Homo sapiens: one gene and its partners. The protein of the gene in region 2 interacts with the protein of the main gene of each other region in a biochemical or structural test. Each region holds a gene or a part of one and is shown on either strand. Other genes may lie near its edges.

Region 1 (8,155 bases), on a different chromosome or scaffold from region 2:
CTGGGCTGGGGGAACCTGGGGACAGGGACAATGGAGGAGCCAATCTTAAACCCTTGGCAATGGGAGATGGAGGGAAAATGAGGTCCGTCCTTGCTTTGACTCTCGTTGGGCTCGTACTGTGGTCTTCTCATGGTCCCCAGAGTCTGCCCTATCTGTATGTCTCTCCTGGTTGTCTGTTTCTCACTTGCTCTTTGTCCCCTGGCACTAAAGATACTGGCCTGGGCCAAGCCCCACCCAGATCTGGATGGACCTTGGGTGGAGGAGCTAGCTGTGACCTCTGCTCTTGGGCAGAACTGGGCTGTCTGGGTCCACACAGCGGGCTGGTCGCTGAGCCCTGGGCCTGCCCTGGGTGAGCAGGGCACTGAGGGCTGAGAAGGGGCAGGGGAAGGGGCACCAGGTCTTCAGCAAACACATGGCAAGAACAGGCCAGGGGGCGGGATGTGAATCTTTTGGTCTCTTGGAGATCCTCCTGCACCTTCTACCACTCTAAGCCTCTAGACCCAATCTCTACCCAACTGTGGCTGGCAAGGGGGAGGGCAGCGGAAGAGAGCCGGGCTCCTCTGACAAAGCCCTAATTTTCTGGAACCCAGATGCTCCTCACTCTTGTTCTCATCTTCTTGCTTCCCCCCAACCTCCTGACCACTCCTCAAAGTGTAGGTGATCCACCACTGTCACCAGGGTCAGGGGAAGTCCTCTGGACAGAGAGTATGGGAGTCCTGGGTTCTGGCCCTGGCTCTGCTACCAACTTCTATGTGACCTTTGTGATTCCTTTGCCTTTCTGGGCCTGTCTCTTGGTCAGTCTAGCGAGAATCAGGTGACTGCTACCGGCTCACATCTCCTGGAGTCCCTGGTCTCTTTCAGAGCTGCTCTGGCACTCCCGGGTGGGAGTGGGGGACTGTCTTGTTCCACACATCCCCAGGAGGCCTGGCTGAACCCCAGACCTGAGTCGAGGGTGGGATAATTGCTCCCTGCGGGGGATGTTTTTCCTAGAGGTGTGGGCTGGTCCCAGGGAACCTGGGACTCTGAGGGCCCCTGGGCAGGAAGGAGGCCAAGGTTTCCTTCTGGCCAGAGTGCTCAGCTCCAGCTCTGGGGCAGTGGGGAAGAGGTTGCTCAACGTTGGGGTGGGGCCCTGGCAGGGAAGATGGCGCCGAACTGGGAGAGGGAGGAAAGAGATCAGCTTGGTGACTCTGGGGCAGGGCAGGAGGGGGAGCCCCTTACTGTGTGTCCTCTCCCTAGGAGGATGAAGAAGCCCCCAACTCAAAGGAGGGTGGCGTCAGAAAGTCCCAGGGAAGAGCCCTAGGATAGGATGAGGTCCCGCAGCAGCAGATTTGTCCCGCAGTTCTTCATCCCTCACTCTTCCAAAGACTCTCATCTGAATTCCGTTTTCTTTAAACCTCCCCTGAGTTCTCCATCTGACTGCCTCAGTTTCCCTGAATCTCCAGCCAACCCTTTGGTTCTTTCCAAGCGTTTCCCTCGTATCCTCCTGACCACAGCAGCTGGTGGCATAGTGTGCGTATCTGTGGGCAGGAGTTAGTGAAGGCCTCCTTCCCTCCCTCCAAAGCCCCAGGCCCCACGGTCTGCCACCCGCAAAATTCCAACCACGAGGGGGCGCCTTCCTGCCCGCCGCCCCGTAGGGAGACCCGGCCTAGGCCGCTGGAGTTCCGAGTTCCAGGGTCCTTGTGATGGAAGGGCGGGCGCGGCCCCCACACCTGGTCTTCCAGCCCTATCCAAGGAGGACTGCCAGACAGTCCCGCTCTGAGGTGCAGGAGGCCGGGCCGCCTCGGCTACCCTGAATCCACCCGAAGCTAGAGGGCCCGAGCCCGGGGGGCGGTCGGGTGCTCACCTCCAGAGCTTGCCCAGCGTCTTGCTGAGCTCAGCGTTGTGCAGGTGCGGGTACTGGTCCGCGAGCTTCCTGCGCGCTGCCTGAGCCCACACCATGAAGGCGTTCATGGGCCGCTTGACGTGCGGCTTGCTTTTGCTGGCGCCGTTGACGCGCACGGGCATGGGCACCAGCGTCCAGTCGTAGCCGCTGAGCACCTGGCTGACGGCCTCGCGGATGCACACGGGGAACTTGTCATCGTCCGCCTCGCCGTCCTGCTGCTCCTTCTTGACCTTGCCCAGCTCGCCTGGCCCCGGGCTGGCTCGCAGGCCCGATCCGCCGCCGCCGCCGTCGGGCCCTAGCGAGGGCGCGCTCCCCGGGGACAGGCAGCGGGGCTCCTCCGAGCCCACGGGGCTCAGCTCCACCTCCGATAGGTCCTGCTCCTCCGCCATGTCGCCCCCGGCCGCCGCCGCCGCCGCCTCGGCCGCCTCCCCCGGGCCAGCCGCCGGGGTCCTCGCAAAGAGTCCAACGCCCACCTGGATGGAAGGAGGGCGCGATGGAGCGGCCGCGCGCGCAGCCCCGAGGGCGGCCCGAGACAGGACGTGGGCACAGCCCCGAGGTGGCGGCCCTTCCTGCTCCAGCTAAACCCATCTGGCCCCTGGGGCCCACGCACATGCCAGACTCTAGGTGGGTGCGTCCCGCCTCTGTGTCTTCCCACCACCTGGTCCCAACCGTCTCTTGGTGTGGGTGGCTTTTTTTTTAGCCTCCTTTTTTGGGTGGAGGTTTGTTGATGATAAGGAAGAAAAAAACGGAGCCTTTATTTTGCTCTAATCCCGGCCCCTGGAATTTCCCACCTTTTCTCTCACCTTTCCTTCTTCCCTCAGCCTGCCCCAACGGGGTTTAGAGGAGAGCCAGGTGGGGGGCAAGGGCGGGGTGTCGCCTCTCTCCACCTCACAGCAGGGTCCCAGGCCTGGGCGGGCCAGGGAGGAGCAGGCTGCGCACTCACCTCCTCGGACCTCTCCTCCAGTCTGGGGCTCGTCCTTAGGAAGTGGAAAACCGTGTCCCAAGGTGTGCGGTCCAGCTCGGGGCTGGGAGGTGACGCTGGTGGGCTGGGAGGGAGGGGCGGGGGGCCCTGAGCCTCAGGCCACGGCCTCGTTAGGACGGAGCCTGAATCCTTACCACCAACCACCCTGGCCGGACAGCCCGAGACTGACTGAGCGACTGAGCCTGAGCCGCTGCGGAGGGCTGGGGAAGGAAGGAGGGGGAGAGGGGGGAGGGGAGAGGAGGGAGGGAAGGGCAGAAGGTGGAGCCTCCAGGCTTTCCTTCATCCCCAACACTCAGGGCTCCTCCACCCGGAGCCCAGGCCCCCCCACCCAGCTCCCTGCCCTACTGCCCAGGCCCATCTTGCTGAGGCTTATCTTGGGCTTAGTCTGGGAGGTGGAGGGGAGGTTAGGCCGAGGAAGGAAGAGATGTAGGCTGGAGGGTCAGAACCTGTTGGATGGAAGAAAATTGGGCCCAACCAGGACTCCTAACGTCTGCCTCAGGTGGCAGGATGGGCACTTGGCAGGGGACTAGGGAGAGACGTGAAGGCGGTGAGGGTCCTGGGGGCCCGTGAGGGTGGCTGGCCCTAGCTGCTTCGTCTGCGAAATCCTGTTGAGTGCCTAGTGTGTGCCAGGCACTGATGCCCAGCTCCTCACCCTGCCTCCTACCTTTTCCCAGGCAGCCCTTTCTGCCCCATCCTGCACAGTAAGAGAGACTTCTCAGGGATCCCTCTGAGAAGTGCAGAGCCCCAGCTTGACCCCTGGTCCCTTCTCTGCAGACACCCAGCACACGCGCGTTCTGGTCTGGTTCAAGGTGGAAACACAAGACTAAAGCTGCCAGGAGGCCAAGGTGGGACAGGTTGGGGGCCCTCTCTCAGTAGGTCTTAGAGGCATTTTGGGTTGCTACCTACTGGGACCCAGCTCCTTCCACACTGGGCTCACCCTGTCTTGGGAGAGGGTAGGGGAGTCCTAGTCCTGATTGTCACGAAGTCCTCTACTCCCCCACCCCAACAAGGGGTGGGGACTTGCCCTGCCTCTTCCCTCCTCTGCCCACCTCTCCCTCCCTCCCCTTTTCTTTCCTGCCCATCCTCCGTTGACACCTTTTTCTCTCTCTTTCCTTGGCCTCTCCTCCAAAGGTCGCAGTGCTGTTCTCTTAACTGAGGGCAGCCCCGCCGGGGTGTTGAGGCCGAGGTGGGGTGTATGTGGGTTATGTAATGGAGCTGGGGTCGCATTGGCAACCATGTGACGTTCTGAGCTCCTCAACAGCAGGGCAAAGCCCCAAGACCACCCCAAGGGGTCCTGTCTGGAGTGGGCTGCAAAGGGTCTGGGGAGGCAAGGCCTCATGCTTGGGAAAGTCCAAAGGGGTGTAGGGGGTGGGAAATGGGACACAATGAGGTAGTCACACGAGGCAGAGGCATGTTGGGGGTGGGGGGAGCAGACACTGGAACACACACACACACACACACACACACACACACACATGCTCACACACACAACCAGCCAGACAATCGGGCCAGTGTGTCTGGGGCCTCGGAGCCCAGTGAATTAGGAGTTTGATAAGGGTTTTCTCTTTCTCTCGCTTGCTGGCCTTGGACAATCTCCCCCCAGTTTTCCTCGACGCCACCCCCGGCGCTGCCAACCCTCCTCCCCCCGCCTCCCTTCTCTTCCCTGTGCCCAGACTCTTGTTCGGGGCCTTGAAACAGTGAGCTGTCTTTGTTCGAAATACAGGTGAACGGCAATCATGTGATTAACACACACACACATAAAAAGCTTTTTAACAGCGCCCGCTCGGCCTCAGAACCGCCCGGAGAGGAGCCGCCCTGGATGGACAGAGGGACGAGGGACGAGCATCTGCCGTCGTGTCCCGGCTGCCCTGCAGTCGCCTCCAACACCCGCTGCTGCCCGCCCGCTGCCTGCCTGCCTGGCATCTCTCTCTCCCGGTGGGTCCCCACTCATCCTTCCACCCCTCAGTTCCTCCTCTTTGAGGAAAGGACCTCCCCGCTCTCTGCTGTGTCTGTGACTGGCCTGAGACCCGCCTGGGGCAGGAGGGGTGGTTGTGGAAGGAAAGAGCCCAGAGTTAGGAGGTGGAATGTGGGGTCCCACAGCTGCCCCCTCTCTAACTCCCTGCTTCCTCCTTTGCCCTCCTTGGTCCAGCTGTGCCAGGATGGGGGTGGGGGTAGCAGTGGGCACGCTCTGTCTGCAGGAAGCCACGCTAGACAGAAGGGGCCACTCCCTCTCTCTCTCCCTTGTCCCCGCACAGACACTGCCTTCCTCTCAGGGCTGTGCTGGGCTTTTTGCTGAGCAGTGTTGGGTGAGGCAGGTGGGCCTGCAGGGCGGGTGGGAAGGGCTGTCAGATGACCAGTGCTGTGTGTGTGTGGTTGGGGCCCCTGCTGCGAACACATCCCTGCCCACCATGCTGGCAACTGGGATCCCCTCCATCCCATCCCAGGCCCTGGGAACCCAGTGCTCTCCAGCAGGCAAGGGTGAAGGACCCATAGTCATTCCTGAAGAGCAGGGAGCTTGGAGAGGGGAGGGATCCTGGCTGAAGACACCTGGGCCTCTGCCCCAGCAGGACAACAGGAGGGCCAGTGTCACCTTCTCCTCCTTTCCCTGCTGGGGGTGGCAGGGGTCCCTTTACCCCCTCATTCTTGACCCTTCTCCAGGGATGCTTGTGACCTCCTTACCCCACCCCCCATCACCTCTCTGTCCTGAAGTGAGGGTTTGTCACCGTCCATGGCAAGGTGTGGTGTCTGGTAGGCTCTATGACCTGCCTTCTCTCAGGGTGTTTATTCTGCAGCAGAGAGGGGTCTGCGGTCTGAGTGTAATGGTGGAAATCCAGGCTTCCTTCCATGGCCCAAGGAGGCCTTTCCGGAGCAACAGGGTTTTCCTGGGACTCAGCCTGGCTTTTGTTAAGGCAGGTCCCGGATTTACTCAGAAGATGGGCCCCAGAGAGGAGGAGAGGAAAGGAATACCTGTCAGTCAAACGTGAAGCCCACTGATGACACTGCCTGGCAGAGCTGCCTCCGGTCAGCAGTGACCCTTCACCCCCCAGCTCCCAAGTCCTCTTCCTGAGGGAGCTGGTCCGGCTTTATGGAAGGCTCCGCCTGTGTTCCCCCACTGGGTCCCTGGTCCCTCACCTGTCACGTGGGGCGATGGTCACCCTCCCTCCCTGCCTGCCCTGAAGGATACACTGAGATGAAGGTCAGGAAATCTGCTGGCTGCAGAACCAGGGGCCATGCAGGAGTGAGGGATGGTCTGGTCAAGTTGAGGCTCTGCCCCAGCCTCAGTTTCCCCACACAGGCATGAGACTGTCTTCCTGACTTTCAGAGGACAGGGCTGAGATGGGATGAGGGAACACAGGGAAAGCGTTTAGCACCTCTGAGTGCTGTGTGGATGCGACCTGGGGGGTCCTGGCCTCCACTCTTTAATTCTATCTGGACTGTGTGCCCTCCTACCTCCAGTTTCCCTGCGGGGGCCTTTCACAGGGCCTGGCTTGCGGATACGGGGTTTGGCGTAGGGCAGTGCTTCTCAAATGGGAAGGCGCACTGGGATTCTTCAGGTTGGGGTGGGGCCTGAGGTTCTGCATTTCTAATCAGTTGCCTAGGACTGGCTCTAATTCTTGTTGAATTTACAATCACTTGTGGAGTTAAGAAAAACATACTGGGCCTTGGTTGGGTGTGGTGGCTCACACCTGTAATCCCAGCACTTTGGGAGGCCAAGGTGGGCAGATCATGAGGTCGAGAGATTGAGACCATCCTGGCCAACATGGTGAAACCTTGTCTCTACTAAAAAAAAAAAAAAAAAAAAATTAGCTGGGCATGGTGGCAGGCGCCTGTAATCCCAGCTACTTGGGAGGCTGAGGCAGGAGAATCACTTGAACCCGGGAGGTGGAGGTTGCAGTGAGCTGAGATTGCACCATTGCACTCCAGCCTGGGCAAAAAGAGCGAAACTCTGTCTCAAAAAAAAAAAAAAAAAGAAAAAAAGAAAAACATACTGAGCCAGGCGTGGTGACTCATTCCTGTAAGCCCAGCACTTTGGGAGGCCGAGGCGGGCAGATCACCTGAGGGCAGGAGTTCGAGACCAGCCTGGCCAACATGGTGAAACCCCATGTCTACTAAAAATACAAAAATTAACTGGGCATGGTGGCACGCACCTGTAATCCCAGCTACGTGGGAGCCTGAGGCAGGAGAATCACTTGAACTCAAGAGGCAGAGGTTGCAGTGAGCCGAGATCGCACCACTGCACTGCAGCCTGGGTGACAGAGTAAGACTCTGTCTCATAAAAACAAACAACAACAACAACAAAAAAACATACTGGAGCCTAGATCCCACCCCAGACTGGTTGATTCTGAATTTCTGGGGCTGAGGTACAAGCATAAAGTTCCCTGGGAGGTCTTCACAGAGTCTCTGGATCCCTGAGGCTGTGAATGACCCCCTTCCAGAGCCAAAATCACCAGGGATGGAGGAGGGGTCTTGGGTACTGGACCCACCAGCCAGGCAGGTTATACTGGGGTATCCGGAGAGCTTTGGGGTGTGGCAGGGGAGGGCCTATGCACTGGGAAGGTGGAGGGCCGACGGGCACAGGTTAGTGGTCGAGGGCAGCATAGTGACAGACAGAAGCTACCCTGTGGGTCTTCAGCCGAGTCTGAGTGCGCTGGGGTGGCTGTGGGAGCTCCCCTGAGCATTTTCTAGGCCACCTCCACCTTTGGATAAGGCTGTGTCATCCTCAGTCTCGGATGTAGTGGAAAGTGACTTGAAGTCAAGAAATCCTGCCACTAGTACCCAAGGGGCCTTAGGCAGATCACGCTATTAACCTCTCAGGACTCGGCTTTTGCATATGTACGATGTTGATAATCTTATGCACCCTTGATATCCCCAAGTGATGAGAGAATTAAATAAGAATACACACACACATCTCCCCTACCTAGCATAGTGACTGCTCAATAAATGTGAGTCAGAGGAAATCATTTAGCTATTAGGCCAGCACTGGGAGGTGTGGAGGATGCTCACCTCAGGTCAAGTGCACAAGTATTAACCGAGCAGCCACCACGGCCTCACAGTCAGGAGTTTATCATTTGCCTTTTGAATCCTAATGTCAGACCAGGTGGCATTCCTGCTTGGGATGACAAGCTCCTCTGTCATGGGTGGGCCTCCTCTGCCATGCCCCTTAACAGCGAAGGCGACACTCTAGGGCCTCCCCAGGTGCCGGCTCAGCTGTGAGGGCTCCTGTCATCGGACTTCATCCTCCCAACAACCCTCTGAGTAGATGCTATTATTCTCATTTTAGGGAGGAAACT
Region 2 (7,199 bases):
AAAAAAAAAAAAAAATTAAAAATAATAGTTGCATTTTAGAATGGGAAGTAACTTGATCAAGGTTGCCCAAACTTAGTAAGTGAATAAGATTTAAGCTCCAGCAAAACTGGATTTTAACTCTGGCTTTTTCACTTATGAGTCAAGTGACATAGAAATAGTCTCAACTCTTCTGAAGATCAGTTTCTTAATCTGTAATACAGGGACTGATAGTAATAATGCCTGCCCTACTTGTGTCATTATCTATTAAGGACAATCAGTGAAAGCACTTTACAAATCCTAAAGTCACACACATTTAAATTATTTTTATCATTGGCCTCCACACTTCTCTTATACCATTAACCAAATGCTGAAATGTCAGAGAAATTACTGTCACTTGGTTGACTTTCTCCAAAGGAACTACATTACCCAAGAGATTCAGTCTGAGGGCAGGCTACGGATTTTTTTTTTTTTTTTTTTAATGACTGGTATTTTGAAAAACAAGTCCAGCAAACAGGCTGCTTCTCTCTTGTTTGATGTGGTCAGAATTCCTTCTTGGTCATGTGACCCCCTAACATTTCTTGATGCTTATTTTAAAAACACAAACAAACCTGTTTGGTTTTTGCTTTCTTTCTTTTTCAAATTAACCTTGGACACTATGGAGTTGACCGGAAGGGCAGGGTGGGAGATAGCATCTTACCTGGGTGCTGGTGGGAGAGCTATCGTCTGAAAAGCTCTGGGAAGTGAAAGATGGAAGAAGGAAAGTTGAGTTACTCAGACATCTGGTGCATCCTAACCCTAAAGCACCTCTCGGGGTTCCTGATGCTCTCAAGCACGCCTGGGTTCAGAATAAGAGGGGCCAGTCCTTTCTTCATAATAACTTTAAAAATTATTTTGAGGCTGGGCACAGTGGCTCACACCTGTAATCCCAGCACTTTGGGAGGCTGAGGTGGGCACATAACCTGAGGTCAGGAGTTCAAGACCAGCCTGGTCAACATAGTGAAATCCCGTCTCTACTAAAAATACAAAAATCAGCCAGGCGTGGTGGTAGGTGCCTGTGGTTCCATCCACTCGGGAGGCTGAGGCAGGAGAATTGCTTGAACCCACAAGGCGGAGGTTGCAGTGAGCAGAGATCATGCCACTGCACTCCAGCCTGGGCAACAGAGCTGGACTCCACCTCAAAAAAAGAAAAAAATTATTTTGAAACTATAAGTAGTAAACTAATGTATCATGGAAAAAGTGTAGGTGTGTTTAAAACTGATCGCGCCCTTATAATTACAATTAGAGTTAATGGGAAAACATTGGAAACATTTCTGATAACATCAGAAGCAAAATAAGCACATCTATTACAGCTGTTATTGTTTAATACTGTAAGTTCTAAGCAATATAATAGGACATGTAGACATATCAGTACTAGCAAGGAAAAGACCCTGTTACCATCAGATGCTTGTATTACAATTACATACTTGGAAAAAAATCAATGAGGAAAAGACACTAGTAGGATTCAGTGAAGTGGTCATGTACAAAGTAAATACACCAAAATCAGTAGCTTTCTCATACTAATCTGTCATTAAAATATAATGGTGATTACAATATAGGATCCTTGACCAAAAAAGAAAAAAAATTTTGTAATGTGTACTGGAGATGTGGAAAAAGTAGAGAAACCTTGTAATGGCTAATCTCCCCCAACCCTTAGTAATTTCTGAAGCTGGCTAGTAACTCAGACAGTCAACAATAGATGCACCATGAGGGCAGGGATCACTGTCTGTTTTACTTACTGCTCTATCCCCAGCACCTAGAATAGTGTCTGTCCCACAGTAGACACTTAATAATTGTGTTTTTTTCTTTTTTTGTAGAGATGATTTCACCATGTTGCCCAGGCTGGTCTTGAACTCCTGAGCTCAGGCAGTCCTCCTGTCTTGGCTTCCCAAAGTGCTGGGATTACAGGGGTGAAGCACCATGCCCAGCCAATAATTGTTATTGAGTGAATGAAGGAATGAATTTGAGAACTAGTCATGCCAAGGAATCGCTAAGTCACATCGTGTTGGAAACTGCTCTTTGTGGTCCAAGTCCACCCATGTTTCTCTTGTTTTTTTCTCTCCATCAGATCTCAGTCTCAGGAGGAGGTTTGCCCCCAGTCAGCACCTTGACGAATATCCACAGCCTCTCCCACCATAATCCCCAGCAATCTCAAAACCTCATCATGACACCCCTCTCTGGAGTCATGGCAATTGCACAAAGTAAGTTCTATTCTTGGTTGGAAAACTTGGGGGCAGGGAGAAGAAGAATGGGAAGCAAATTAATGTGGTGAAAAATAACTGTAGGTCTCCTTCAAACTCACCCACGACTAGTAGATTTGGTTTAACTTCTTTAGTTTCTCATCTGTCTCCTTAAATCCAATATTTGGATTGTTTAGCCTAAAACAAGAGAAAATTGTGGAATGGATTTGGATCCTGGTCACAGTTTAGCAGCTGTGCATCCTGGGTCAAATCATTGAACCTTCAGGAGATTCAATGTCCTCATCTATAAAATAGGTTGTTAAAGTGATCAACTGACAGTGAATATGAACATGCTTATAAATCTCTAAAGCATGAATATGTATAACATCGTAGCTTACACTTTGTCTTGAGTTCATTCCTATCACTAAGTAGGTGGTAGATTTTTCAGGAGGTTCTTTCTGTTTGGTGATGATGAAGTAAGAATGACAGGTTTCCTTCTAAATGGGGAGTTTTGTGTGGTATATGAAATCTCCTTGGCCAGCAGTGAAAATACACCAAGGGAGGATCCAGAGGGAAACTGCCATTGTATCTGAGAGCTTTGAAAACTTTAAGGAGAAAAAGCTTGCTTTGGCACATCACACGCCTGAAGACACGGAGATGGATCAGGTCCCTCCAGCTCCAGGAGGCTCATATTCAACAGCAAGCCTGTGCCCTCCCATACATGGGCCATCTTGAGGCATGAGAAGGCTGAAGGGAACTGTGGTTGTGGATATCTCTTTGAGAGTTTTAATGTTGATGAGTATTCAGCATATTTCCAGCTTCACTATGACAGCTCAGGTGTCGTTGTTTCTCAAAACCATCCTTGTGACCCTTGGATGTATTGCTGGATGTCTTGGGAGAGATCTAAGGGTAACACATTGGTCATCTTTCTTTCAACCTTGTATTGCTCCATTGTCCTCTTACCTTCCTTGTATCTAGGGCTCATGTTGGCCACCTCTTTGTTTTGTTTCTGCCTTTTTCTTTCTTCCCTCTTCTCTCCCTAAATCAGCTTTAGCTAGGGTCGGAACTTGGATTCTCACTTCTGAAGAGAATGACTTACACATCCTTTGAGGTCAGAACAGGGCTAAGCCCATTGGAGGCACACAAATTTATTGAATATGTGTGGCTCTCACTCTATCCTTAGCTGCTTGGAAATTGACACACAGTGCATTGATTTTGGCAGAAGGAAAATGGGAATGGGGAAGCATTTAGAGAACTCACAATATAAATGATCATTTTAAATGTATTGCCTTTTGACTGGGCCCTCTGGTATATGGAATATGGTAATTATACTAATACCAGAGTTTGGAATGAGATAAGATACCTAAAACCAGCTTGTTTGCCATTTAGAAGATTTGATTAAAAGGCCCGTGGGGAAGATATTCCACTTATTTCTGCAACCAAAATAATAAACAAACTGTCCCACTTAACTTCTTTCTTTCCATTCTAAGCTTTCACTGCCATACAGTTATATATATATATATACTATCTGAATTAAAATTTTCCCTGGGGCTAGTCTGCATCTTTCCATTTTGTTCTTTCTAATTTCCTCTACTCATATTTCTCTATCATTTCACGATGCTCCTTAATCTCCTATTCAGATGGGCTGCACCAGAGTGCACACTGACCTCAGAAGGATGGCTGTGTGTGTACATATCTGTGTACACTTGGGGTAGACAGAGCATGAGAAATGGTGAGAATCACCAGAAGACTGCTGAGACACAGAGGTCCTACACTATGGAGTGTTAGGATGAGAAACTGGTTGCAGGCATCTTCATTTAACTGACTGATGTGTTGAGTACCATGGGCCCTGCCTCAGAATTGCGGAAGCCTGTGGAGAAGGTGGTAACAAATTATTTGGCAGGGCCAATTCCTTATTCTCTACTCATTCTCACCTCTTCATCCTATTCTCTTTCTCATCTCTTCCCTGGACTGGATAGCATACTTCCCAAGCAAGAACCAGTGCCCAGAAACAGAAACAGATGAAAAGGTCAAGACTTACCCACTGAGGGAGCTGGAATGACATCAGAGGCTCTCAATCCTGGAATTGAGGCACATCAGGATCACAGACTGCATTGAAAATAAGATTCCTGGGCCCCACCTCTGAAGGTTCTGACTCATTAGGTCTTGGGTGGGGCCCAGGAATGTATATTTGTTAAAGAGCTCCCCCAGATGATTTCTGAAGCACATGCAGGTTTCAGAACTATGCCTTCAAATGTCATCCACTCTAGACAGGATCATTTGCTTTTTTGGGCAGCAGTTTCTCAAAAAGAGCAGCAGCAGTGCTCTCAAAGATTTCTCAAAAACGGCACATTCATGGAGCTTTCTGGGAGACTGAGACCATAAGCAGGAGGTAGGAAAGGGAAACACGGTCATCGGTCATCAGGGTATCTGGTGAGATGCTGGCTTGAGGAGACGCTGAGCCCCCTGGGGAACTGGAGACAGTGCTGTTCTGAGGGTGATCAGAGGGTGGCACCCCCAGCCCCCACCCAGGAGAGCCAGAAGCAGGATTCATCCCCTGTCCTTTCTGCTCAGGGGTCTCGCCTTTTAGGTTTCTGATAACAGTATCAGCTAAAGCTCTGAGTAGGCAATTGTTGAGGACTCCGTGTTATCTCCATTGATGACTTCCCTCAAACCTGCCTATGAAACCGTCTCCATTTCAGGAAAGCCTCTCTAGGTGTCCCTTCCACATCCACCTAAAACAGACCTTTTTCTGGATTCCTTCTTCATCCCATTCTTCCCCCAACTTCCCAGAAAGCAAGAACACAGGAACACAATCGACCCCAGGAAGCAGGTCCAGGTGTCTTCTCTCCTGATCGTCCTGTCCCCACTCCGATCCTACCTTAGCTGTCTTCCTCCGTGTCGCTCTCAGGGAGGAGATAGAGCATGGGTACCAGGGGATCCAATCCTCAGAGTGCTGGCCCGGGTTCTAAAGAGGCCTCAGGATACACAGTTCCAAGTTACAGAGGCCCTGACATCTCCAGAACAGAAAGATGGGAAGACCCACTATAAATGCCAAGAGTCAACCTTTAATGTACTACTTCCTCTTTCTAAAACCTGGTCCTTTTAGTGCCACAAGCCCTATGCTGCCACATAAGATATGCCCGCCTCGCAGACTGGCTGAGTTCCAGTGTTTTCTCCCCTCTCTGTTACAGTCAAGGGAGTTGGCACCTGATTTCTCTGGGGGTCTTTGTACAGTCTACTAAATAAGGGTCTCCCAACCTCATACTCCCGGGACTATGGAAGTTGTTTTTAGTCAAAATTTGGGTCCCTGCACACTCCTGCCCTCTACTGGACAGACCGATCTGGGCAATAACCTGTGCCTCAGTGTGGACATCTTTAACTCTGCCCTGCGGGCACCAGGGCAAGCCTCTCTCACAGCCTGGCATGGATGGAGTGGGCAGGTAGAGCCAGCTTTTCCAAAGCCCTGGTAACCTCAAGAGAGCTAAGTTTGGGAGGTCACAGGATGACTCTGGGAGACTCTCAGGCTTTAATCAGATCTGTTTAATGCCCATCTCCAACCCACAACTCATTGTGGAACTTGAGCAAGTAAATTAATATCTCCAAGTCTCCGTTTCTTTACACTTGCCTCCCATGGAATCTCCTATGTAACAGGCTCAGCCCGGTGACTGGGACATTGAGCGGGGGCTCAAATGATGGCATCCATCCACCTCTCCTTATCCCAGGAGCTGTCTGTGATCTTTTCCTCTTGCTCCCACAGGCCTCAACACCTCCCAAGCACAGAGTGTCCCTGTCATCAACAGTGTGGCCGGCAGCCTGGCAGCCCTGCAGCCCGTCCAGTTCTCCCAGCAGCTGCACAGCCCTCACCAGCAGCCCCTCATGCAGCAGAGCCCAGGCAGCCACATGGCCCAGCAGCCCTTCATGGCAGCTGTGACTCAGCTGCAGAACTCACACAGTAAGGACACGGGCATGTGGAGGGAGGGAGCACTCAGGACCCTCAGTGGCCAACCACTTTCCCTCTCTGGGTCTGAACTTTCTCGGAAGTTTATTGGCTTGGTCACTTTTCCCTGCCTATGATCAACCGACTAAGACAATTTCTCAAGCATAACTCTTGAGTGTTGCTGTACCTTTTCTAGTCCTCTTCTCTACCCCTGAGATTCCCAGGGAAGGGTTTGAAGAGGACAGTGTAGGCCTACAGATGAAGGGGAATTGGAGCCAGACAGCATGTGGAACACACACCGCCAATTTCCCATTCCAACACCTCTGGAAAAGATCGCGTCCATAAACCACCAGCACCTTTTCCCAGTGAACTTCAACTTAGCCTTTGCAATCTAAACTTCCAAGCAGCCATTATCAAATGATCACAATTGGCATCTAATTTGCATCCTGTTTGCCTTCCCTAAAAGAGAAGAATCTTCTAGAGTCCCGTGTCCTCCAATTTATACACCCCAAACATCTCTAATCAAGAACCATGAACACAAGTGAAAAATACCAGTGGCATGCCATCCTGGGCATTAGAGTTTCTTCCTCCATGCCACCCCTGCATCTCTGCACACAGACTGTTTCTCATATCCAATTTCTATACCTACCCCAAGCCTACCTTTCGACCACTTATTTCCCATCCAATCCCATCCTCTGTTTCTCTGCCTTTCATCCTGAGTCCCAGGCTTCCAATCCTCTGGCCAGGTCTGGCTATAGCCCCTGACACAGGAGTTTGGGGAGGAATCGTGGCTTCTCTGCTTCAGAAACCCCAAGGAAGTGTTCAGTATAAAGCACTAGTCTTAGATCAGACAGACCTGGATTTAAATCCTGGCTGTGATACTTACCAGCTGTGTAGCCTAATGCAAGTTACTTAGCCACTCTAAGTCCAATCTCTACATCCATAAAATGGAAATAGTATGCATTTAGAGTCATTATGAATATGAAATAAACATAGGGGTAAACTGCGTTTGGTAAGCATAAAAAATTATAAAGATTATTTATAAAGGGACTCTTAGAAGGCAA
Region 3 (8,180 bases), on a different chromosome or scaffold from region 2:
TTTAAAAATGTTTTTGCTTTAGAGAATTTCGTCCCTGATGCAACAAAAATAGCGATTTTAAGGAACGTTCAGCCCATCGCTGACCTGCGCACGTTAAAATGATTCGCGTTCAACATTCCTGCAGAATAAAGCTGTAGGAAAGACAACGTTAAGACTCTCTGCAAGGCAAGACCAGCCAACGACGAGGCGACCCCGTGGCAGGCTGGGCGGCGGAGGCCGCGCGGGGAGGTTTTCTCGAGCGTCCCCGGTTATTGGGAAGGGTGCGCTCGGCCTCGCTCCCGCGGAAAGCCGTGTGGCCGCCTGCGTCCCGGGCTCTGCTCACAGAAAACTCAAGGGGAGCTCCCTAAGCACGGCCGGTCTCAGGAACAGAGGTGCCTGGGGAAAAGGGGGAACCTGCTAAAACCCGAGAGATAATGGGCTTGTAAAAACCAGAGGGGTCCGCTTATGAGTTTAGCTCCGGTTATAGACAACAGTGTCAGGTAAGCTGATCAGAAAGACAGACGGCCTCTCCCTCAGGTTTGCCGAGGGAGGGTTCAGAAAAGAAACAGGGAGCGCCTTCAGCAGTCTATGCGGTTATAGGCCATTTTCTTGTTTTATTAGCGTTTAAATTAAACTATGAGAAGAAAGTCTCATCTTCCCTCCCTCGCCACTTTGTCTATTTGTTTTGGAAAGAGGGTAGAAGAAGCCCCTCTGTCTTCCCGAAAAGAAGAAAGGGGAAAAAAATTACCTGGTAGGTCCAGGGGCAGAGGGCTCCCTCCCAAAACCCAAGCGCGATTTGCATCCAAGCTAGTGGGAAAGCGCGCATCTCATCATCTGGGACTGTTCCTGATTAAAACTACAGTAAAAATAAATTGTGCCTTTATTTATTCTTTCCATACTCTATTTCCATCTATTCTAACGAGTACTTCTAGAATGAAAATAAGTAGCCGCGAAAAAAAAAAAAAGCTCATCTGAGGGACGGGGACATCGTCTCATTTCTTGGGCAGCGGCAGAGAGTAAGGGTCCAGCCCGGCCACAGTGAATTTGATTTCCGAGAGCACTCACTCCTCCTGCCACCGCCGGAAGGGTCAGGGGAAGGTTAGGAGGAAAGATGGACCTCCAGAGCCGAGCAGAAGTGCCATTGCACCAGCTTGGCGCAGAAGTGCCATTGCACCAGCTTGGCATGGGCACCGGGCACTGCACATTAGGCCTCAGGGATGGTCCTGGCGATGTCTGGTATCGTACCACGGTTTGGCTAAAGATTAAGGGACTAAAACCTGATCCTGACCTTAGATAGTGGCCTAGGAGCGCTCGTGGTTCCAGGACGCGGACCGTAAAGAGGTGCCAGGGAGCTCTGCTCGGTCCCAGGGCTCCCCAACCCCGCCGCGCCGGGGAATGGCTGCGAGGTCTCTCCCCTGAGGACCTTGAAGGGACCCCGCGCCTTCTGGGGGCAGCCGGACGATTCTGGCCCAGGTCTCTGAGGGGAATGGGGGCCGGGAGGGAGCATTCGTCTGCAGCTCTAGAGAGAACCCGAGTGAGAAATCTTCCGGCGCCCCAGGGGGTTCCCGCTCCCCTCCTAGTTGGGCCATGGCCCTGGGACTGGAGACTGCGCCGCAGAGCCCGGGCCCCCGCAGTGCGCTTGGCTAAATAGAGATCTCAGCCTCGCTGCGCGCCCGATCCGACCCTCCTTATTATAACAAATGTCCCGTTTGCAGAGCGGGACATCATATTCGCGGAGAATTCATTCTGAAATATTGATTTCCTCTCACTTCGCCGGCCCAAATCGATAGCGATGCGCCCTGGCCCCATAAATCGCCTTCTCTGCGGCCGGCCGGGCTCCATCCATCACTGCGGGCCGCGCTGCGCCTCCACCGCTGTCCGCACTCGCTGCGCGCCGGGACGGCTGCGCCCACCAGCCCTGACCCTGGAGCTCCTTCCCAGCAAAGACCCTGCCCAGCCCTGGCCGGGAAGGGGGAAAACAGGCATCGCGGCCTGGGAGCTCGAGTGTGTTTGAAGGCCCTGCTTCCGGGCGCAGGTGGGGAGGGGGTTTTGACTCCGCGAGCGGCTTAGTCCTCACCAGCCGGACGCCCCGCGCGCGGCGCCCGGCCTGCCCGGTGCTGGGCCAGGAGGAGTCGGAGAGCACCTGAGTGCGCTGCCGGCTCCCGGGCCCGGGACCACCGGCTCCATTGCCGTTGGCTTGAGAGATGCGGGGAGCTCACAGTCCAGCCAGGGGAGTCACTGGGAAGGACTGCGCGCACCCGAGGAAGAGGACTTAGAGGTCGGGGACGGGGAAACGGCAAGTCCAGCACCGGTGCAGCCCAGGGACAGAGCACGAAGAATGTCCACACTAATGCGCCATGCAAGGCTGGGAATGGAGCTCAAAGGAAACCCCCTCTAACTCCACAGAGATCCCCTCACCGATCCATGTGGTCCCTCGAAACCGGGCAAGGGCGGCTCAGCTGGCCGGGTGGAACCCCAGTGCCCGAGAACAGCGAGGCGGCTCCAGCGGAGGGCCAGGCCCCAGGCGCCCCAGCTGGGTCCCCACGCGGGTGGGTCCCGCGAATCCCGTGCTGACGCTCTCGAGATCCAACCACCCGAGCGCACGCACGGACGCTCAGCGGCGCGGGGGCTCGGGGATCCTGACCACACCGCGTTCTTACCAGATCTGATGGAGTTGTGAGGCATCGCCGGGGAGTCGCTCGCAGCCCGCCGAGGGCTCGGGGCTTCCTCCCGTAGGTCCGGGCCGCGCCTGCCGCTGCCCTGCACAAACCCAGGAGAAGGGCATGAGATGCGATGAGATTCGATGCCTGCATCCTCAGGCCCCCTCCCCAGGCCTCATCCTTTACACCTGCATCGTCTGCCAGGAGTAGGAGGATTTTTAGGCGAAGTAGGGCCAACCTCAGCCTAGCCTAGCTAACAGGCTTCCCGGGAGGATCAAGGATTGGGAGTGCGCTGAAGAAGCTCCAGACTCCAACCTCCGTGCCCACTCCCTCCGCTGTCCCAGTCTTATCCCGTTTAACTTGGGAGGGAAAAGGCTGCCAGGCATCCTGGGACCCTCTCCTTTCTTCCATCCCCCGTCCTCACTGCTAGCCAGCTTCCAGCTAACCCCTGGGTGACATACCTGGCCGGCCGGCTGCAGGCCCTCACTGCTTGGGTCCGCCCGCGAGGGTGCCCTGGGCCCGGTGTCTCTCCTCCTTCTGAAGTTTGTTCCCATCCACCCGGCATCACCGACCGGTTTTATCCCGCTGAGGCCCTGGGAGATGGGTCTGGCGAGGCTCGTAGGCCGCGGATTGGCTGGCTGGGTGCAGGGGGGTGCGGGAAGGGGAGGATTTTGCAAGGGGGACATGGCTGAGTGGACTCAGGAGTTAGAAACATTCGCTGGGAGCTTCTGTTTCCAGCGGAGGGAAGAGGGAGGCAGCTGAGCCCTAACTCAGCAGGCCTGGAAATATTGGAGGAGTGGGGAACAGAGGCCTAGGAGCCTGAGGATGAGGTTCTCTGGGTCCTCCTGGGTCACTGACCACCAGAAGTGAGAGGGATGGTCTCTGTAGGATGCCCTCCTTGCCCCCTGTCTCCCCTGGTTTGCTCACCAGGAAGCAGCCTTTTCTTTTGTAAAAGGAAGGAGGGAACTTCTGTTTTATGCCTGATTCTTTAGGTAGAGCCTGCTTTCGGGGCTGTAGGCAAGATGCTATTACCTTCTCACCACAGCTATGACCTCTTCCAGGGAAGAATCCTGAGCAGCACCTGAAGCCATTCCCTCTGTTCTACACAGATAGCGTTCACACCCTTGCATTGTCAGGCTAACAAAATTGTCACATAACCCATTCCACAGCAACTCCTCGCCTCTCTCCTCTGGAACACACACGCAGCCACCTGCCCTCTTTCTTGCTCCTTGAGGATTTTGAACTTGGAAGAAGAGTTCAGGGGAAGGGCATTGAGGGCCTAGACTTCATCTCTGTGTGGAAAGGCCTTAGAAAGGAACAGGACTGAGCTGACCTCTGGCCTGGTCTGTAGGAATCAATAGCCTCAGCAATATGGGGGCCTGGGTGTGGTTAAGAAGGGGTCCACTGGTGGGAATGATGGCAGGGTTGGTGAGCCCTGGGACCGAGCAGAGCTGCCTGGCACCTCTTTACCTTAGTGATGGCAAAAGCTGCCCCCTCCTTCCTCATAGTTCTCTCAGTCGGGGAACCGGGGTACACGTAAGATTGTGAGTGGGTATGAGTGAGCAAATGTCCTGGAACACTGGCAGGCCTGGGGGTCAAGGCCTGGATGCTCCTCCAATCTTTGGCCAGACCTCTGGACTCAGGATTACAGTCTAGAGGACAGCCATGCCCTTTTCAGTGATGGCTCTGCAGGCCTGGTGGGGTTGTTCTGGGACAGGAGGCTAAGAAGCCAGTGGGAGGGGGGCAAGGAAGGTGCAGGGGAAACTGGGATATTCAGGGGGATTGGATGTGTGTGTGTGTGTGTGTGTGTGTGTGTGTATGCACATATGTACACGTGTGTGAAAACACATGAACTATTTTTCTGAATTAAAAAAGTTTTCTCTTTCATGTCAATCCACAACCTCCTTCCACCCAGTCTTTCTCATTTCTCAATTTAGGAGAAATGAATCATCTTGTGAAAAAAGAGAGAAGAAGATGTGTATCCCTACATGTTTCCTCCACATTTGCAAAGAGGGGCTGTAAACAAAAATAGTTGGTGCTTCATCATTTTAAATCTTTCTCTAAAATTGTAATTTTAAATATCTCTGTGGTTTTCAAAGCTCCAGATCCCTAACTTCTCTGGCAGTCCCTCCCAGAGAGAGACAATCCAAGGGTGTTGGGATGGAAATGGATCTTGGCATAGGTCCTCCGGACCCCATGGGCCAGTTTGCTGCCCTGGATTGTGTCCTGCTGCAGGGGAGGTGTGGAGTGTGGCAGCCACAGCAGAAACTCTCTTTGTCCACCCAGGATTCCCTCCCACCAGGGAGGCAATGCTCCAGGGTGAATCTAATACGCCCTCATTTCAAACAGCTCTGACAACCTTAGAGATTCTACCCAATCTAAGGTTCTGATACGTACCAATAACCATTGACTCTCATGCAATCATTCTTGCCTGTGCACATCTTTTCTGCCCAAGCAATGAACCCTCTCCCTTTCCTATCCCCTTTTTGGGCAAAATTTCTTAGAGGACAAATCCAGCAAGTTATCAGAACATTCCTGTCCCATGTATAAATTTATCTTTAAAATTTCATTTCAAGGTAAAAACAATGTGCACTGTTCAAGGTTACTCCTCAGGGAAAAACACACCCCACACCTTGACAGTACCTCTTCTCCAGACTGCAGGTGACATAGCAGGTGACCAGAAGACTCAGCAGAGAAGATCTAGGACGAGCAAGAAGTGAGAATGCAGTGAACTTCTGCTGCAGAGATAAACACAGGCCTCCTGGACTGACCCTGCTTCTAATTAGAATCAGAAATCAGGCCTGGGTTCCTTGGTACTTCCTAATTCTCTGAGACCAAGGCCAAGGAAATGTCATTAACTGGTGCTTTAACTCTGTCTCTTTGGCATCAGTCTCCTCCTCTGCAAAACGAAAGGTTTGAAATACATATATTTTTAAAATCACCTATTATCACAGTATTTTTTCAAACTTAAAATCCATGATGCTTTTAGTTAAGAATAAAAATCATATGCCTTCCTATGATGATATTTGAAATTTTAAAATAAATTTGCACTGTGACTAATAGACTTTCAATGGGACTTTTAGAACTCTTTTTTTTTTCTTCTAGACTTAGTCTCACTCTGTCACCCAGGCTGGAGTGCGGTGGCATGATCTCGGCTCACTACAACCTCCACCTCCTGGGTTCAAGTGATTCTCCTGCCTCAGCCTCCCGACTAGCTGGGGCTACAGGTATGCATCATCATGCCTGACTAATTTTTTATATTTTGGTAGAGACGGGGTTTCACCACATTGGCCAGGCTGGTCTCGAACTCCAGACCTCAAGTGATCCGCCTGCCTCAGCCTCCCAAAGTGCTGGGATCACAGGCATGAGCCACTGTGCCTGGCCAGGCCTTAGAACTCACTTTTTAAAATGAATACCTCATTTGCCAACTTTTCTTCTCAGGCTTGAGGCCCATAAGGCTTTTGTGGCAATATTATCAACTGGCAACTAGTTATAATTTTTTTAAACTCAGTGTTTTTTTGAGAAAATGTAATTCATTGCCAATATCAAAATACAGAAGTAGAGACGAGAGACTAACTCTGCCTTGCCTTTGAAAATGCAAGAGATCTGGCCGCAGATCTGAGCGTTTCTTTGTGGAAATGAACATTCTTTCAGGTTTAACATTCCAACAATCCTAGGTAATTGCCTAACTACAGTGGTTTTTGAATTTGCATAATATCCCACAATTTGTTTAATTCTATGCTGATCTGCTGAGCCTTCAAAAGATGTTCTTTCTTTTCTGGACTCAGCTGTAATGCACTGGGCTGGTGGTAGGGTAATAAAGTGCCCTGGTTTGCCCTGGACGAAAACCAACAGTGTTTTCTAGATGCGAGTTAAAACTGGGACTTTCCCGGGCAAATCAGGATGAATTGGTCATCCTAGCTGATTAGAGTGTGGGAGTGGGATGGTTTGGGGGTCTTTTATAAGCTGCCGTGTTTCAACTGACTATTGGGTGGGTGATTGTTTGCACACTTGGGTCATTCTACCTGCTGGCTCAGGTGACTGAGACCCTTGAACTCCAGTAGGTCCATGAGCTCTTCCTCTTACTCCTATGTACCCTGGTTTCTCTGGGCACAATGCCCAGAGACCAGCCTCGAGGGAAGACCACTGCTCCCAACAATCCTCCTGGCTTACTTGCCACCATGCCACTTCCCCTACGTAACGAACCATTGTTGGGACTAAAGTACATCCCTTCAGGAAGAAAACAGCAGCTCTCTACTTTGCATCAGAGGTGAGTGTTCCAGCCCTAATTGTGTAGAATGGGATGATTTCTTCTGCCCGAACCTCAGTTTCCCCTTCTGCATGATGTGGATATAGACGGGGGGCTGGGGAGGGTCAGACCCACCTCGTAGCTTTGTTGTGAGGACGAATAAAATTATGAATGTGAAGGCCCTTTGAAAACTACACCTCTGTACAAAAGTTAATTATTATTAGACAACAAAGGCAGAGGAATACATCCAAAGAGGGCAAAGTTAAAATGTCCCTAAAGTTTTGCTGTGGAAGTCGGTTCCTTTAATCCTTTCCCAAAGGAGCCTTGGAGAGGAAAGGGCCAGTGAGCCCGTGCCTGTGGGTGCAGGCGTGGGTGCAAGGGTAGCAGTGGGGCAGGGGTGTCTGTGAGGGCAGCAATTAACATTCGTTGACCCAGAGAGAGGGGAGAGTCAATGGCAGAAGGCCAGCACCCCAGCAGAACTTCCAGCAGCGACTTCATCATTTTGCAGAGGGCAGAAGTGTTCAGGGCACTGGCAGTTTTCGCTCCACCCTCTCCCCTCACAGACTTGCCCAATCCTGCCGAAGCCACGTGGGATTTCAACCCTGTCCCTGCACTCAGGAAATGGCCGACAGCCTGCCCTGGGGCCTCCTGGTGGCAGTGCCTGAAAATCAATCATTAATTATTCCAGGTTCTCCACCTCCCTAGGCTTTGAAAACTCAGAAATAGAAATATAGGTCCTGGCAGGTGAAAGGAAAAGAGCCACTGGTTGGGCTGCCGAGGGCAGTTTGGAAGAAACCACTGGTGGCATTTGTCCAGTTGGTTTGGGTAGGGATGTGTCCTGGGCACTTGTCCCTTGGGCTCTTTGCCCACCCCACAGCCTTTGGCAGCAGTTGCCTGGGCTTCTGGAAGGAGACCCTGGTACTTACAAATGGGTGGAAAAAAAACTTCCTGGGGACACAAAAAGGAAGGTGACAGAGGGAGATAAAAGGATTGACGTACACAGCTCAATTTTTTTCTCTAGTAATCATAGTTTTTTTTTTTTTTTTTTTTAAGTTAGAAAAAATGAGCTAGACCCTTTTGGCAACCCATCTTGCAGATGAGGAAACTGGATTCTAGGGAAGGTAAGTAGAGAGCAAGGCCACCCAGCTAGCAGACAGCCAACTAGGTGGCCAAATAAAGCACCAGTGACTCAGGCTTTGCCTTAAATATTATAAATTCTACTCACTTCAGCCTAGTTTTTGCTACTCTCCACACCTGCCCCTTCCCCTCAGGAAGGAAGTTTCTGGAACCCA
Region 4 (7,199 bases), on a different chromosome or scaffold from region 2:
TTTCTCTTGTCTCTTGAACCACCCACAACATCAGGAGATGCTGAGCTGAGAGTGCTCAGAGTCCAAATGAGGCCTCTGATGAGAACCAGCTGCAGGCCGGGGAGGTCGTGCCATCTTAGTATCTCTGATGAACGGCACTAGACTTCCAAAGGTGTCTTGGTATCTCTGAGTCCATCTGCTGTGATGGTTCATCCCTGACAAGTTGCCCTAATCTCCCATGACATCACAATTGACTTCAAGGCAATAGCATGGAGTGAGTTTTAAGAAACCAGAGCAGATTAGTACATTGCAGGCAAAGAGCCTTGGGATGGGTTTGCAGAGGCCCCAGGTCTCTGGAGGAAGGAGGTCAAAGGCCTCTGTCCACCCTGAAAGGCCAGAGCTGTGGGGGTGGTGGGAGGGAAGGTCCTCAAAGAGACAGGAAGCCCTGCCCACTCCTGCCATGGACCAAAGCCAAACCCAGCTCCAGCTGGCTCACCTAAAGGGCCCTTATGAATCCCCTCTGCTTCCTCACCACCACAATCCCCTTATTTTATACTGTGTTCAATGAACAAAAAACCAGTTTCTCCATTATTGATGAGATCTGTATAATATGTGTGTGGGCCCAGAAAAGATCTAGAAGGAGATACATAAAATTGTTGTTAATTTTTTTTCTCATCAAGCCCAGAGCTGTCAACAAGAGCCGTTTTTGCACAGTAACACCCTGAGTTGATCAAAATTCTAGTCAAAGGCCAAGGAACTTGATGTTTTGTGCGTTCACACCTCTGAGGTTATCATGTTGGGTTTGGCCAAATCCCAAATTCAGAGCCAGGGCCTGACCCCACGACCATGTGGGTGCATCTGGGAGTGAGAAGCCAGAGGTAGGGCTGCAGGAATAAAAGTGTCCACCTTGGCTTTGCGAGGGGAGCATGGGGAATGTGTTGTTCTGGGCTCTACGCTGGAAAGTCCCCGGGCTGCCCAAGCGCATGGCATGTAGGGCGAGAGCCGCTGCCGCCAGGCCAAGCTAGGCCTTTCCAGGCGTGGCTGCTAAATGCGGGACCTGACTTCGGCCTCCACCATGCAGAGCTCCTGCTGCCACCGTGGGCAGTGGCCCTGCAGTGGTTGTGGTGAAGGGGGTGGGGGCAGCTATATTGAAGTGGGTGGAGGGAGCTATATTGCTGAGACGGAGCCTCCCTGAATCTGGCATGTGTCCTGCCTCTTCTTTTAGCACTCACTGGGCACTTGCAGAAACTCCAGGAGGCCCTGCCCTAGAGGAGCCCACAGTCTGCGAGGCGAACAGAACACAATTAACAGACAGATGTATGAAGTGTGCAGAGGCCAGTGCTGGGCTCTCACCGACGGCCTTTGAGGCAGGGGCTGCTGAGAGGTCCATGTGCACCCTGATGTGCAAAACTAAGCGGCAGCCCCACGTGTCCAATACAGACCAAGCTCCCAGCCACCCCTCAGCACCCCAGCCTCCACCCAGGGAAGGAGGCCACCACCATGGTAACAACCAGGTTCTTGGCTGCTTCTGAGCCTACCATGGAGACAGGCAGGCTCTCAGGAACCATGGCTGGATGAACACTTCCATGAAGCCGGCGAGTGCTAACGGCCGGGGAGGTGTTCAGCATTTACTCTCAGTGTGGAGATCTGGGACGCTTCTCAGAGGTGGCGGTGCATGAGTAGGGCTCTGAGGGATGGGCAGGTGGGACGCCATGAGAAGGGCACCTCAGGCAGAGGGCGTGGCCCAAACAAAGGCCTGGAGAGGGGACCATGCGGGGCCATGCTGCTTACCGTTCTGCTTGGCTGTCTCGTAGTCTTCCTTGCACACCAGCCGCCCGTCCTCCATGAGGTAGAATTCGTCCCCCGTGGCCAGCTGCCGGTTGCAGATGATGCAAGCAAAGCAGTGCAGGTGGTAGACAAAGTCCTGGGCCTTGCGGACCACCTGGGTTGGGGGGATACCCTGCTGGCAGGCCGTGCATTTTGTGCCGAAGCGCCTGTCAGGGCAGCAGGAAAGGATTAGGGCACACAGGGAGCAAGGGATCTGGCTTCCCCCAACTTCCTGGAGCAGCCTCCCTCCTACCCCACCACTCCGGGACTCCATGAGCCTCACCCCCCAGTCACCCAGAGCTTACCGTCTGGTCCTCTCTGCCTCCATCTAGCTTCATTGCTTTGTGCCTGGGACTCTTCAACCACCAAAGAAGGGACTGATGAGAACTAGAGTCTCCCTCAGGTACCTTTTCCAAAGCTGATGCCCCCGGATTCCAGCTGCCCGATTAACACCCATCAATTCACAGGGGGAGCAGGTGGACTTTCTAAGTCCCTCAAAGCAGGCTGTCTCCCCCTCCACCTCCCAGCTTCCTCACCCTTATGGTTGATCCCAGAGGACATCCTCACAGGGAACTGTGTGTGCCACAGGCTGTGTGTAGAAAGCACCCAGCAACACCTTTTCACACACTCCCAGGGAGGAGGCCCTGCCTGGCCAGGGGACAGCACGCTGCAGAGAAAATGCACTTTGTCAGCAGAGCAAGGCTGTCCTGACAGCTGTTCTCTCTCCTTTGCCTCCATTTCTCCCCTCACCTCCATTCTGCACACACAAAGCCCTCCAAGCCTACCTCCATCCCCTTCCTATGCACGCACACAGCCTGGGGCATGGTGGTTTGGGAAGGGCCCAGGAAGCTGCACTTTTCAGCCCCTACAGCATTCGGGACAAGGAGTCTGCAGATTACAGTTTGGAAAATGCTGCTTCAGACCTCTCCTTGGTCAGCACCTTTCCAGAACAACACCGAGGCAAAAGGAAGCTACCTGCTGCCACCAAGGCAGCTTCTACCAAGCAAGCCACCCCCTGCCAAGGCCGGGAAGGAAGGAGAAATTGACACTTAAAAGTATCGTCCAGTGGGGTTGTTTCCACTCCCTTTCCCCATTCTGGTCATAGAGATCAACAGAGGCACACCGATGGTCATAGGAGACGAGGGAAATTTGGGGGCCGACAGGGACAGTGAAGGAGGGTGCGTGGCTGCAGGTGAGCCTTCCCCGCTTCAGGAGGGAGGCGGGAGGCATTGGGAAAGCAAGGGCAGAGTTTAAAACAGCAATCAACCTAATTATTCATGACATTTCACACAGCAGAACTTTATCTTCTTCAGGATGAAAGACTTCGCCTAATGGATCTGGGGAAGGTTTGATTTTAATGGTCCTTTTAACTAATGCTTATAGGCAGCCTGATTTCCCCTGAAAGGACAGTACATATTTCATCCACATTAATACCAAATAAATTAATTATGGTCATGGCTATCATGATGAATACCAGATTAATGCAGAATGATAGGTCTGTTATGCAGTAATGATACCTGCTGAGGGGGTTATGGGGGCCCGGAATAGGCATGGCCAGCAGCAGCCTCAGACGCCCCCCACCAGGGACACAGCATCCCAGAGAAAAGTGGGGGTTCTCTAAGTCTGCATGGGTAATCCTGAAAGACCCAGAGTGTACTTCAGGGAACACTCTTCTGAGATGGGTATAAGAAGGGTGTTGGGGTGTGAGGGGCTGAGAGGTGGTGGCTTGGGAGGACCCCAGGCTTCTGAATTCCTGGAATGCCTCTTGGTTTTCAGAGAGATGGGGCCCATTTAGAGCAGGAGTTCTCTGCGTGAGGGTCAGCATAGGCCTGTAAACCACCTGCTAAGTTGTTCAAAATTGTGCCTCAGGAGGGGACCTGGGTTTTCATCAGATTCTTAAAGGGATTCAGGACCCAGGAAAGTAGAGTTAATATTTGTTGAATAAATAAATCAGCAGATAAAGCACCATACTTGTAGAGGATGTGCACGGAGATGGCCGAACCTGAGGATGTAGAACAAAGCACACAGTCGGCTCTGGATGGTTCTAGACCTCCCAGAACACAGGTGAGAACCAGGTCCTCCACAACTGCTGTGTAACCACATCACCTGGATCAAAGAGGAAGGCTGGCAGGCACCCACCTCTACTGTGTGTGTGTGTGTGTGTGTGTGTGTGTGTGTGTTATGTGTGTGTGTATAACAGAGAAAGGAAGCCTACACATGTGTTACTAGAGAGTGTTTTCAAAAGGCCTGTATATTTAATATCCAATCCCAGCCAATTTGCAAAGCAGGTACTGAAATGAAACAAGGCACCAGGTGTGGTGGCTCACGCCTGTAATCCCAGCACTTTGGGAGGCTGAGGCAGGAGGATCACTTGAGCCCAGCCTGGGCAATATGGTGAATCCCTGCCTCTACAAAAAATGCAAAAAATTAGCCGGGTGTAGTGGTGTGCACCTGTAGTCCCAGCTACCTGGGAGGCTGAGATGGGAGGATCACCTGAGCCCAGGGAGGTTGAGGCTACAGTGAGCCAAGATCACGCCACTGCACTCCAGCCTGGGCAACAGAGCGAGACCCTGTCTCTAAATTAATTAATTAAAATGAAACAAGGCTTTCATCATGCTTGTTGCGAACCCTCCCAACAAACCACGCAAATCTGGAGAATGTGTCCTAACCAGAGATCCAAGGAGAGGAGGGCTGAGAGGAGACCCCGGAACAGAGGGAAGACCCTTCAGCAGCCTCCTCCACAGGGGCCACACTCTCTCCCACTAAAAAGCAGGCAGGGGGCTTTCAGTCACCGGAGGCCCAGCTGACACCAGCACACCAGAGACATGAAAGATAACGGGGGTATAAATTTAATCTACATACCGACAGTGATTCATGCATGAGGGTGGCAAGTGCACAAGAAAAATGAAAAATAAGTGGACTTCCCCACCAGCGTTTTTTAGCAATTGAAGCAATTTTCCTGATTGTGGGATTTATACTGAAGGGAAGTGGAAGTGGCTCCTCATTACCTTTTCCCCTGGAGCACAGCCAGCGGGACCCTTGCCGAGGGAGCCGCATGCAGCACCTCCTTGGCCCACAAGGCTCCCCCGGCCCAGCCCAGCCCTGCAGATCACCCTCCACCCCATCTCCAGTCAGAGCCAGTGTATCTAGAATACAGGGCATCCTACAGGGGTGTGTCTGTGATGGAGACACTGTCCCCATTCCCAGATCTTAGAATAGCCAGAGTCACAGGTGAGAAGGCCAAAGCCTGGCAGGTCACATGACTTGCCCTGCGACAGGCAATAATGAGACACACGGTCATGCCTAGAATTCCCTGGCCCCACACGAGGTAAAACTGTGAACCCGGCTGCTACACAGAGAACCAGAAGTCTAACCAACTGGACCAAATATGAAGGACGCTGGGGTAAAGAGGGAAAGGCTGGACTCCAGCCAAGGAAGAGGGCTCCCAAGGGCTTTTCCAAGCAGCACCCCTTAACACCGATCACCGGGCACCCATGCAGGGGCACCAAGGGCACTGGCCTCACCCTTCAGAAAGATAAGCCTGCTGCCCAGTCCTGCTAGCCAGGCCTCTGGGGACAACCAGTCCCCCCAGGAGAGCAGCTGGAGCTGATCCAAAACCACAGAGAAAATGCAAGGAAGACTTGCTAATGGCTCATATTATTTTCATCCTCTAACCAACACCACTGGAAATTGTCTTATCCCTGCCCAGCACATAGTAGGCAAGCCACAAAGACCCAATGAATGAATGAATGAATGAACGAATGAGCAAACGAATGAGTGAACGAACGAACTGCTTCTTAAAACATTTGCCTGAGTAGTCAGGGGAGGCTTGGCTCTCCATAATGGCAGCTCTTTTCTTTTCTTTTTTTTTTTTTTTCAAGTTTGGTATTAACTTTGTTCTATTTTTGGTCTAACTTTAAGTACCTAAAGATTTATTTCCACAGGCCTCAGAAAATGGGTAGAAATCACAGGACAATCCCTCTTCCCACCAAAAAAAGTTGCATACTTTGGTAAGTGTTTATCCTAGAGGGAAAAAGCTGAAATTTACATTAGCAGTGCTGTGCAAGATTCTGACATAAATCACGACCTCAAACCAGCCTGCAGTGGAGGTTCTAGTCTTCTGTTCAGGCACTTGGACAGAAGCCATAGCTGATGAGCATGACAGGGAAAAGGAGGCAGTAAAGACAGGTGACAGGCACCTTGTAGGGAAGGAGGATTCAGGAATGCCAGGCTCCTTGGAATGGTGTGCTGTTTTTCCTTTTTTTTTTTTTTTTTTTCCTTTCAAAGTCATCTCTGTAGGAAGGTGCTGGGCAGCGATCCCAGAGAAAGAAAGGTCCAAGACTCCTTTAACTGTCCTGGATGAAGGGCAGTGCTACAGCAGCTAGTACCGGAGACTCTCCTATCTCATGGTTGAGGCAGACCCAGGATAGAATAGAGAATAAAAGGAATGCTTATAGGAAACCATTTTGCATGGAATGCTAGATGGCCAAGCCTCAGCCTTTGGTCCAGTGCAACCCTTGCCTCACTTGTCAACAGTGAAAAATTAGTTTGGTTAGAGGAACCATCTGGAAACACACCAGCTTCTGCTAGCTTCATGTTCATTGCTAGAAAAAGATTAACCAGTGTGAACATTCTGATCTGTTAATTCCTGGGATTGTTTTCTTCCCGAAGGACTGTTTGTTGGTAGGATAACCCCCAAAAGCTCAAAGCTAAAATGCATCATCAGTCCTGGTTGGCAGTTCCTTAAGAATGGACTGGCGGCGTGAGCGAGCTGATATGGACAAGCTGCCCCTTCCTGCAGAACATCAACTGACCTACTATCTCACCCCAAATCTCTGCCTGAGGTATATTTCAGTGAAGGCAGTTAGTTGTGCTTCTCAGAGCAGAGAAGCAGTTTTAAGCTCTTTTCTTTAGGGGTGAGGGGATCTCACTCGGTTGCCCAGGCTGGAGTGCAGTGCCACAATCATAGCTCACTGCACTCGAACTCTCAGTCTTCCCACCTCGGCCTCCTGAGCAGCTAGGATCACAGGCACATGCCACCATGCCCAGCTCATTTTTTAAGACATGTTTTGTAGTGATTGGGTCCTACTATGTTGCCGAGGCTGGCCTTGAATTCCTGGTCTCAAGTGATCCTCCCACCTTGGCCCCCAAAGCACTGGAATTACAGGTGTGAGCCATCCCCTTTGCCTCTGCTGTCATTAGCTTCCCCTCTGCTGGCTCCTTCCATCCATGTACAGGCATGCTATGATCCCTGCCTGCCTCCCTTCTCTACCGCCCACTCCCCGCACCCTTCAGGGCAGCGCCCCACTCATCCAGAGCTGTGCTGCAGCCCAGCGGTCAGCTCCCCTCTCCCCGGCCTCCCGAGCCTCCCGACACACCTGCTCGCCGCCTCC

The links.
Region 1: the proteins of HNF1B (region 2) and SOX10 form a complex in vitro, tested with the Homo sapiens proteins (one study listed by BioGRID).
Region 3: the proteins of HNF1B (region 2) and PAX8 form a complex in vitro, tested with the Homo sapiens proteins (one study listed by BioGRID).
Region 4: the proteins of HNF1B (region 2) and LHX4 form a complex in vitro, tested with the Homo sapiens proteins (one study listed by BioGRID).

The regions. Positions count from the first base shown.
Region 1 is NC_000022.11:37,981,514-37,989,668, forward strand, and holds the start of SOX10 (transcription factor SOX-10), read right to left. Parts: upstream 3,043-8,155; 5' UTR 2,826-3,042; intron 2,356-2,825; 5' UTR 2,272-2,355; coding exon 1,844-2,271; intron 1-1,843. Other genes in the region: POLR2F (DNA-directed RNA polymerases I, II, and III subunit RPABC2), read left to right, coding at 4,641-4,799. UniProt on the Homo sapiens protein: Transcription factor that plays a central role in developing and mature glia.
Region 2 is NC_000017.11:37,699,934-37,707,132, reverse strand, and holds part of HNF1B (hepatocyte nuclear factor 1-beta), read left to right. Parts: exon of another isoform or gene 1-2,083; coding exon 2,084-2,216; exon of another isoform or gene 2,217-2,393; intron 2,394-4,236; exon of another isoform or gene 4,237-4,308; intron 4,309-5,955; coding exon 5,956-6,150; intron 6,151-7,199. UniProt on the Homo sapiens protein: Transcription factor that binds to the inverted palindrome 5'-GTTAATNATTAAC-3'. Binds to the FPC element in the cAMP regulatory unit of the PLAU gene. Transcriptional activity is increased by coactivator PCBD1.
Region 3 is NC_000002.12:113,275,731-113,283,910, forward strand, and holds the start of PAX8 (paired box protein Pax-8), read right to left. Parts: upstream 3,192-8,180; 5' UTR 3,101-3,191; intron 2,740-3,100; 5' UTR 2,665-2,739; coding exon 2,640-2,664; intron 1-2,639. UniProt on the Homo sapiens protein: Transcription factor for the thyroid-specific expression of the genes exclusively expressed in the thyroid cell type, maintaining the functional differentiation of such cells.
Region 4 is NC_000001.11:180,261,166-180,268,364, reverse strand, and holds part of LHX4 (LIM/homeobox protein Lhx4), read right to left. Parts: intron 2,163-7,199; exon of another isoform or gene 2,135-2,162; coding exon of another isoform or gene 2,112-2,134; intron 1,974-2,111; coding exon 1,771-1,973; intron 1-1,770. UniProt on the Homo sapiens protein: May play a critical role in the development of respiratory control mechanisms and in the normal growth and maturation of the lung. Binds preferentially to methylated DNA.